Linked DNA regions of Homo sapiens. The protein of the gene in region 1 interacts with the protein of each later gene in a pairwise test. Each region holds a gene or a part of one and is shown in the gene's direction. Other genes may lie near its edges. The genes, in order: CD33, HERC3 and BMP10.

Region 1 (2,874 bases):
ATGTTTTGTGCACCAGAGAGAGAGGGTGGGACAAGAGGTGTCAGGTGCACTGTGTACTTCATCTCATGGTCGTGGTCAATATTGATGTCTATGATGGGTGGGAAGATCTAGGAGCTAAACCCCATTTTGGAGGTGAAGTCACCCCTCTCTACATGCTGGAGAGGAGGATACACATACCTGTTTATCTAGATTAGAATTCACCCCAAATCTTTTTTGTCTGCAGGGAAACAAGAGACCAGAGCAGGAGTGGTTCATGGGGCCATTGGAGGAGCTGGTGTTACAGCCCTGCTCGCTCTTTGTCTCTGCCTCATCTTCTTCATGTGAGCATTTTCTCTGGGTCAGGCATGGGCCAGAGGTGAAGAGGATGGACCTGGTGTAGAAGGGTCCTGGAGGGGCTGTGAGGGCTGGAGAAAGGGCAGGGGGTGTGATGATGTACAGAATCCAGCCTGTGGCCACTGGGATAGGCGTGGGTCTATTCCAGGGCCCTGATCTCAGATGTCCAAGGAGTGGGAGGTAGAGGGAGACCTTGTGACTAAGTCTTGTTTGAGGGCTCCTGGATTAATCCCACCCTTTACCTGCCAAAGTCCCTCATTCCAGGCTCATAACAATGGCCCCACAGCCTGAGAAAACCAGGCTCAAAGACCCTGGTGTCTCCCATCAGAGTGAAGACCCACAGGAGGAAAGCAGCCAGGACAGCAGTGGGCAGGAATGACACCCACCCTACCACAGGGTCAGCCTCCCCGGTGAGTGATGGGGCATCCTGGCATCCAGTCTGTCCTGCAGACACCTCCTCCCAATGTGGCCCACCGTCATGCCCCATTCAGCATTTCCAGAACTGAGCTTATTGTCTTTCCTCCTGTTTAACAGTGTAGGTTTTAATATTTTTCAGGTACGTTGAGGCCAACAGATCAGGAGATGATGGCCATTGAAAAGATAGTTTCTTGGCCGGGCACAGTGTTTCACACCTGCAATCCCAGCACCTTTGGAGGCCAAGGCGGGCGGATCACGAGGTCAGGAGATTGAGACTATCCTGGCTAACATGGTGAAACCCCGTCTCTACTAAAAATACAAAAAATTAGCCAGATGTGGTGGCTGGCGCCTGTAGTCCCAGCTACTTGGGAGGCTGAGGCAGGAGAATGGTATGAACCCGGGAGGCAGAGCTTGTAGTGAGCCGACATAGCACCACTGCACTCCAGCCTGGGTGACAGAGAGAGACTCTGTCCCAAAAAGAAAAAAAAAATAGTTTCTTATTCACCGTTCCCGAGAGGGCACACCACACCATGCAAGGCCATATGGAGAAGCACCAGGGTCAGTCAGGAAGCAGAGGGAGCAAGGAGAAAATGGGACAAGAGCCTTCACTGTGGCTTTCATGGAAAAGAATGGGCAAGACAGGGTAAGCAAGCTAGGCAGGTTTAGGATTGGCTACTTAGAACAATTTCAGCAGACTCTGGGGTATAGGAGTTGTCTCTAGTTGTCTGGTACATGGCCCTGGGTTTATTAAGGAGGATTGTGGTCTGGAGTGTAAGAGCTCAATAAAGGATCCAGCTGGTAGTGTGGGCTTTAGATTGACTGGTTTGCACATGAAAGGTGCACTTGTATGCAAGTCCTTTATTAGCTCTAGAAATCTACTATCCTTGGGAAAGGCAGTCTCTCAAGGGTCAGTAATGCCCCAGATGTCAAAACATCAGAAACACTTGGTTGACACACCCCTAAACATACTTCTCCTGATGGGTTCTCCATCTCGCTGATGGCACTCTTGTCCCCATTACCCAACCAGAGACATGGCCCCCTCCTGTCCCAGTCCTCCATCTCTTCCTGTGCCAGTATGCTACGATGCATGTCTGAGCTTCCTCTGAACACGGCTTAACACAACCACTCCTGAGCCGAGAGCCCCTCTTACTCCTTATTCTGCTGCAGCCTCACCTCCCATTTCTCCTCTCCAGAACATTAGCATCACCTCCCTAAAAGGTCATTGTCCCATCATTCCCAAGTTTGAAATGCACTGCTTCTCTACACTCCTGAAAGATTGGCATTCCAACAACTTGGTCTGGCATTTGGAGCAGGAAAACCAGAGTCCCCTTCAGTGCTATGCTCCCCCAACATTAGCCACTCAATCACCTCAAGCAGGGCAAGCTTTCTCATCTCAGAATCATTGCTGGGCTGTCCCCTCCTCCTCATATGCCTAATAGCTACCTGCCCAACTCCAGTGCATCCTTCAAGCTCTGATTTTTTTTTTAATTTATTTAACTCTGACTAAAGTGAACACCACAGTAAAGTTTTTGAACACAGGGTCAACCAGCACCCATTCATTCTGAAATATCTATATAATCCCATTTGCCAATTGCTCTAGGTCCTTGTGCCATTCTGTATTTTTATAAACACACAGTTTACAAATATAAAATATTCCTCCTATCGGGGGCTTAACATTTATTGGGGAAAGGGATGAAAATAATGAACAAATAAGCAGTGCAAATATACATGAAATAGGCATGAAATAAGTGCTATGGCAGGAAATGAAATGGGAGAACGGATTGGACAGTCCTGGGGGCCAAAGAATGGCCTTTGGGCAAACACCTGCAGAAAGAAAGTGAGTACAGTATGAGCAGTAGAGAATCATCAAGGAAGCAGCAAGTACCATGGCTCTGAGGCCGGAACACATCTGATGTTTTAGAGAAACAAAGTAGGACAGTGTGGATAAGGCAGAGTTACGTGTTGGGGGTGGAGTGTGGACTGAACAATGGTAGGTAGGAAATGAGGTTGAAGAGACATAGGAGCTGCAAATATTGCAGGATCCTAAGTCCATCATAGTTATTGATGCGTTTAGAGCAGAAGAGTGACATGAACTGACACTCATTTTAGTGGGAGTCACTCTGG
Region 2 (3,656 bases), on another chromosome or scaffold:
AAATTTTGCTTCCTAACACATCATTGTACTTTCAAACGATTTTAAAAATTTACAGAAGGCACACATTCCTTTGAGCATTGCTATCTTTGTTCCATAAAGATGCAGTCTGAAATTCCCTTTTTATTATTTTTCTATTTAATGAACATCCTTACAAAGTGATTTTGGCCAAGTGTCAAGTGAATGTAGTGCTCTTGTGCACATTGTTGTGATAGGCATTTTGTATACAGGGTTTAGAGGTATACCCTTAAAGATACAGTGAAGTCCTATGGTGTTTGTTCCTTGTTAGAGTGGAGGTGTGTTTACCTTTGGCGCTGGTTCCTGTGGGCAACTTGGACACGACTCCATGAATGATGAGGTTAACCCTAGAAGAGTTCTAGAGCTGATGGGTAGTGAAGTAACTCAAATTGCTTGTGGCAGGTGAGTGTTCCTCAAAGCTTGCTTGTATTCACTAGGACCCAGAAATTGGTCTTATCTTTGTAGTGATGAAGAATGTGATTATACCTAGTCACCGTCATTTTAAGAGATCTTAACTGCATGCACGCCTATGGTGAAATGTGGAGAAAGACCTTGATAGAGTGTGGCAAGGAAGGGTTTTAGATAAGCAGAGCAACACGGAGACATTAGGCTTCTTTTGGGATAAAGAGTAGCAGGATGTGGGGAAGGGATAAAGAAAGGAAAAGTGAGAGAGTCCCAAAGAACTTCTTGGAAATTTTTGCCTGAGTCTACCCTGCTTCTCTCTGTTCATCTTAGAGGCCACATGCAGTAGATCATTCAGCTCTTTCCTGACTTGCCACCCTCCTCATGATCTAGAGTGTTAGAGGATAGTATTATGGAGAGCAGCCGCTGCAAGAAGAGTCACGTGTTAACATGGGAAAGGCTCTATAGGAGCACCCTGTGCTGTGCACATGTGGAAGTTAAAAGTCAGAGTCAGAGTGTACATCCACATTAGTAGAAACTATGCTGATGAGTTAAATTATTTTTTCACAGACAACATACCCTAGCCTTCGTGCCTTCTTCTGGACTCATCTATGCATTTGGTTGTGGAGCAAGAGGTCAATTAGGAACTGGGCACACTTGTAATGTTAAGTGCCCATCTCCTGTCAAGGGTTACTGGGCTGCCCACAGTGGCCAGCTTTCAGCCCGAGCTGGTAAGAATGATTGTCTCTGGAATTTAAAGGTATTTTAAGTGATGAAAACAGTTGTTTACAGAATATGTATCTATTACTTACTTTGAGGTCTTTTGGAGGGAATGAAGATAAGGTATTTTTTAACATCAATTAATAATTTCTGTACTTACTATGCATGAAGCTGTAGAGTTGAGATCCTAGAGAATAAATAAAGCAGGAAATACTGTTGTGTTAGGCCGTTCTTGCATTGCTGTAAAGAGCACCTGAAACAGGGTGATTTATGAAGAAAAGAGTTTTAATTGGCTCACAGTTCTGCAGGCTCTACAGGGAGCATGATGCAGCCATCTGCTTGGCTTCTGGGGAGGCCTCAGGAATCTTACAGTCATGGCAGAAGGCAAAGAAGGAGCAGACACTTCACATGGCAGAAGCAGGAGCAAGAGGAAGAGTGGAGAGGAGGTGCCATACTTTTTACACCACCAGATCTCATGTGAACTCAGAGCAAGAGCTCACTTATCACCAAGGGGATGGCCCAAGCCATTCATGAGGGATCCGCCCTCATGATCTAAACACATACCACCATGCCTCACCTCCAACATTGGGATTACTGCAATTCAACATGAGTTTTGACCAGAACATACATTCAAACTATACCAGTTATTTTGTTTCCACAGACCTTGGTGGTGGTGTATACATTTTATTGTTGTTGCTAATAATGACAGTTCGCATGTATTGAATGCTTAATGACGTTTCATTACTATGCAAAGCACTCAAAATAATCTAAGAACTAGTTAGTGGTTATTATCCCCATGTTAGAGATAAGGGAACAAAGTCTTAAGGAGGTCAAGTAATTTGCCCAAGATCACATAGATTCTGGAGGCAGGATTTAAACCCAGGTCATTCTAAATCATGTGTACTATGTTACCTCTACTTTGCTGTTGGCATTTTGGTATATAACATGATGTGATTTCTTTTTAAGCCATTTTTTTTCTTCCCTTAAAAAATAGTTAAATAGCAGTCTTGGTTTCATTGGAAATCAAAGTCAGGCAGTCATTAATATTGAATGACTGCTTCACCTTGAAATAATAAATCTGAGGCTGAAATGGAGCTAGAGAATCATTAAAAGGAAGTGTAACTTATTAATTTTGATTTTGAAGTCGATAAAGTGACACACTTATGGCTTGATCAGGAATTTGTTTGAAACAGTAACCATCATAAGTTTTAGTACTGGATTATAAGAAACTCAAGGACACAGACAAACTCTTTTCCTTTTTGTAAACCTAGCATATAGCACAGGACCTGGCATGAACTTGTCACTCAGTAGACATTTTTGGAATGGATATATGAGCATCTGAAATGTAGTGCAACTTAAAATATAAATAAACAAGATTTTGTCTGGGTGATGTTCCCAGAAGCAAAAGAATGGCTTTGTGTCCTCTTCTCTGTAATTTGTAAATTCTTTTCTCCAAGACATTGTACTCATACGTGGAATACATTTATTTAGAAAGTTTACCAACTCAGGTGTTTTTTGGTTATTTCAAAACCACAAATTTTTGAAGTTGAATTATAACCTGACTTCCATGGTCCTAAATTTGTGCTTGGATGTTTGCCAAAATGATTTTATAACATAAGCAGGTAAATGTCAGTTATGTAAATGACATGGTTTTAGGAACCCTCTTGGTAATGTGGGAGCACAGAGGAAGGCATGGAGGAGTATTGTGGTTAGAGGAAGTTTGAGCTGTGCCTCGAAGGATGATTTGGAGTTAGCCAGGTGTAGAGGACTGTGAGGGAGTTGGTGTGAGCACCACCAAGGTGCAGTTCCAGAAGCACATTCAGGTTGTGCTCTCGGTGGGCACATTCATGGAGAATCCCATGTGCCAGGGGCAGCAGAGGGGGGAGGCACCGAGATGTGAAATAGTGTGGTGTATTAGAAATAAAGGCAACGTGGTAGTAGGAGAATGTCACCGTGGACACAGTGTGATGGGAGGTAAAGCAGGGAGCAGGAAACGGAGGTCCTTCCGTGGCAAGATTCGTCCTGACGGGGCCTGGGCCCACCACACTCACATGCTGAATTGTTACCATAAAGAATAGTGCCCATTTCAGATTTCAGGTCAGTGGCATGACAGAGTTAGAATGAAAAAGAGAAACTAGGTCAGGATTCACTGGCAGTTGGGGAGGGGCAGAAGAAGAGTTAGAGTGGAGGATACCATTTTATATATTTATTTTTAATTGAAGTAGAAACAGTCCTAGGCAGTGAGCCAGGGGAGAAGATTTCTTACTTCTGTGACACAATTAAAATGGATAGGTACCCACTCTGAAGTGTATTCTGCGACAGTAGAAAAGGGGATCAAGGAGAAACTTCAATTAATGAAAAATATGCTTTCGGAATTTTTTTTTTGACAGATCGCTTTAAATATCATATCGTTAAGCAGATCTTCTCTGGAGGAGACCAGACTTTTGTACTTTGCTCCAAATACGAGGTAAAATTTTTCTTGTGACTCTTATTTCCAGGAAGGAATAATAGTGAACCAA
Region 3 (3,656 bases), on another chromosome or scaffold:
AGGGAGTTTTGAGCCATTCAAACCAGGAGGATGGCAATCTAGTTGGGAAAATCCATTCATAAAAAGATGGCTGAAATATAAGGACGTAAATGACAAGGATCAAAGGAGATATAAAGTGATCAAATGATTTCAGAGGGGAGAGGAGGGAACTTTCAGATGAGAAGTAAGGGAGGCTTTTATAGGAGATGTCAGAGCTGGATAGGTGGAGGTGAGGTGAAAGGGCTTTCCAAGGGTCAGAAGAACATGTGAAAAGGTGAAAATTGCAGGGAAAAAAAGAGTGTTTTGACAGGTGGTAAAGATATCAATGTAGTTAAAACAGAAGGGTTTACAAATCCATTCAATTGTTCACAAATATTATTGAGTAATCACAATGTTCCATGCACTGTGGAGGACGTATGTAAGCTATGGCTGATCAGGAGGTTAAGACCCAGATATAGCTGGTCTTGAGAGCCATGCCAGGGAGTTTAAATTTATTCTGTAGGTCAGCATTTCCCACTAGCAGTGTGTAAGATTAATTTAGGTGGTACCCAAAGAAAGCTATTAATCATGTGAAATTATTGTATATTTTTCTTAGTATGGATTTTTAGCAAACACACATAAATATCACCTCAAATCTCTCCTTTAATGAATTATGTTGCTTAGGAACAGTCTAAAATAGATAATAAGTATAAAATAATTAGATCAAATTAAAGAAAAATATTAAAAGATTATAATCTGAAACAGGGACTCACCGAGATCATGAACTAAGTATAAACTTGGGGAAATGCTGCCAATGATGACAGAGAACCCCCAGTTGGTGGTCCTTAGCATCTTCGGTGCCATGGAGTCCTTTGATAATCTGATGGCAAATGCCTTCAGGGCTTCCTTGTAGACTCATTACCTGAGGCAAGTGTGCAGGAGCTTTGGGCTCACTGTGAAATATTCAGATAGGAAGTCAACATGATCGTATTTGGAAGTATGCTTCTAAGACTAAAGGACTTTTACAGAGTTGATTCATAAACATTATTGAGTGAGTTATACATGTCACGCCCCATGCCAGGTGCTAGGGGTACAAGACTAAGGCAACCAATCTAGTCCCAGGATTCATTTTCTCCCATTCCTCTTTATAGAGAACCATATAACCAGCAGTCAATTGCTGAGACCCTCTTGGTTTATGGCTGTCTTATTGGCCTTGTCAGGCTTTGTTGCCTAGAACAGAAGTCAGCAAGTTTCTACTGTAAAGGGCCAGACAGATAATAACTATTTTAAGCTTTGCAGGCTATATGTTCTTTGTTGTATCTATTTAACTCTGCCATTATAGTGCAAAAGTAGCCACAGACAATACAAAAACAATGGATGAGGCTGTGTTCCAATAAAACTTTATTTCCAAAAGCAGGTAGCAGGCCCATATTGGCCCATAGGCTATAGTTTACCAACCTCTGATCTAAATGGAGGTCTTTTAGGAAGACCAGTGTCCAGCCAACTGTGCGGGGATCTCCACCCACTACAAACACAAATATTAAAAAACCATGAAGTCCTCATCCCCGAAAAGCTTCAAGAAAGGAACAATCACCACATGTCCCATTTGGTGGCGTTTTGTTTGTTAGGAAATTTGGGGACTTGCCCACACAATCTCCAAGGTCCCTCCCAGTTCTGTAATTCTGTGGCTGATGAGCTATTCAAGCAAGGTTGGCTGAGTTTTATGCCATCCATTAGACCCCCATTTTCCATTTTAGTCTTGGCAGCTGAACTCTTTTGGGCATTCTACCACTGACCTTTTGGGATTTCCTGTGTCACAGAATGCTGACATTGTGTTTGTTCTCATTGATTTTCTCCCTTCATTCTTTCTGCATTAAGCTTTGTGCATGGGAAGGCCTTCTTATTACATAAATAAGCATCTGTTTTTCCCTGAGACCCACTGCAAACCTGATTTTTGCAAATTTCTTTTTTCAGATCTGTTTTCCCAGCCGGTCAGTTTTAATGGGCTCCGAAAATACCCCCTCCTCTTCAATGTGTCCATTCCTCACCATGAAGAGGTCATCATGGCTGAACTTAGGCTATACACACTGGTGCAAAGGGATCGTATGATATACGATGGAGTAGACCGGAAAATTACCATTTTTGAAGTGCTGGAGAGCAAAGGGGATAATGAGGGAGAAAGAAACATGCTGGTCTTGGTGTCTGGGGAGATATATGGAACCAACAGTGAGTGGGAGACTTTTGATGTCACAGATGCCATCAGACGTTGGCAAAAGTCAGGCTCATCCACCCACCAGCTGGAGGTCCACATTGAGAGCAAACACGATGAAGCTGAGGATGCCAGCAGTGGACGGCTAGAAATAGATACCAGTGCCCAGAATAAGCATAACCCTTTGCTCATCGTGTTTTCTGATGACCAAAGCAGTGACAAGGAGAGGAAGGAGGAACTGAATGAAATGATTTCCCATGAGCAACTTCCAGAGCTGGACAACTTGGGCCTGGATAGCTTTTCCAGTGGACCTGGGGAAGAGGCTTTGTTGCAGATGAGATCAAACATCATCTATGACTCCACTGCCCGAATCAGAAGGAACGCCAAAGGAAACTACTGTAAGAGGACCCCGCTCTACATCGACTTCAAGGAGATTGGGTGGGACTCCTGGATCATCGCTCCGCCTGGATACGAAGCCTATGAATGCCGTGGTGTTTGTAACTACCCCCTGGCAGAGCATCTCACACCCACAAAGCATGCAATTATCCAGGCCTTGGTCCACCTCAAGAATTCCCAGAAAGCTTCCAAAGCCTGCTGTGTGCCCACAAAGCTAGAGCCCATCTCCATCCTCTATTTAGACAAAGGCGTCGTCACCTACAAGTTTAAATACGAAGGCATGGCCGTCTCCGAATGTGGCTGTAGATAGAAGAAGAGTCCTATGGCTTATTTAATAACTGTAAATGTGTATATTTGGTGTTCCTATTTAATGAGATTATTTAATAAGGGTGTACAGTAATAGAGGCTTGCTGCCTTCAGGAAATGGACAGGTCAGTTTGTTGTAGGAAATGCATATTTTCCTCTCCAGTTAAGTCCCTTTCAATCTGTTTTCTCTTTGGACTTGCCATTTCCTGGCAATGCCACCTCCCTGTTGATTTGAAAACAACCCCTAGGCAAAATACAGTGTCAAAAGACACACACTTGTGTATGTATATTTGTACATACATGAACTTACAAAAATCTTTTGGTTCTATGCAGGCAGGTTATACTCATCTACATGCATGACTCACTCAAATGTATGCATATTAAAGGCCAATGGTATGTTCTCTGTTACCTCTTCTCTGAGTAGGATTTAAGTCAAGATAATTGACATCAGGGTTTTAATCATCCTAGGAAGTATTACCCTTCCTAAATACTCTGGAAATGTAAGTGTAGCTTTTGTCAGTTGAGTTTCTGTAGTTGCTCAGAGAGGAGGGGCCTGGCAAAGGATGCTTGAAGGGAAGGGTTAATTGATACAGAAACCAAATGGACTTAAGAGGTCTTAGAGGTACAACAGGAAAAAATGAACCCATGGAGGACCAATGTGCTCCAGAGGGCAACTCCTGGTCAAGGCAGGAAAACAGAAGAAACCAGCATGAAATCTGTTCCTGAGACAATAGGAAAGCAAGGCCATGAGTACTGGCCATTGCTGCTGCAGAGAGTAGAGGGGTTG

What was found.
Region 2: the proteins of CD33 (region 1) and HERC3 interact in a two-hybrid assay, tested with the Homo sapiens proteins (one large-scale study listed by BioGRID and IntAct).
Region 3: the proteins of CD33 (region 1) and BMP10 interact in binary tests that used the Homo sapiens proteins (3 or more experiments, as listed by UniProt).

What each region holds. Positions count from the first base shown.
Region 1 is NC_000019.10:51,234,934-51,237,807, forward strand, and holds part of CD33 (myeloid cell surface antigen CD33 isoform 1 precursor), read left to right. Parts: intron 1-223; coding exon 224-320; intron 321-584; coding exon of another isoform or gene 585-661; coding exon 662-743; intron 744-889; coding exon of another isoform or gene 890-898; exon of another isoform or gene 899-1,033; intron 1,034-2,874. UniProt on the Homo sapiens protein: Sialic-acid-binding immunoglobulin-like lectin (Siglec) that plays a role in mediating cell-cell interactions and in maintaining immune cells in a resting state.
Region 2 is NC_000004.12:88,654,888-88,658,543, forward strand, and holds part of HERC3 (probable E3 ubiquitin-protein ligase HERC3), read left to right. Parts: intron 1-286; coding exon 287-417; intron 418-987; coding exon 988-1,148; coding exon of another isoform or gene 1,149-1,186; exon of another isoform or gene 1,187-2,547; intron 2,548-3,527; coding exon 3,528-3,604; intron 3,605-3,656. UniProt on the Homo sapiens protein: E3 ubiquitin-protein ligase which accepts ubiquitin from an E2 ubiquitin-conjugating enzyme in the form of a thioester and then directly transfers the ubiquitin to targeted substrates.
Region 3 is NC_000002.12:68,864,848-68,868,503, reverse strand, and holds part of BMP10 (bone morphogenetic protein 10 preproprotein), read left to right. Parts: intron 1-1,932; coding exon 1,933-2,873; 3' UTR 2,874-3,656. UniProt on the Homo sapiens protein: Required for maintaining the proliferative activity of embryonic cardiomyocytes by preventing premature activation of the negative cell cycle regulator CDKN1C/p57KIP and maintaining the required expression levels of cardiogenic factors such as MEF2C and NKX2-5.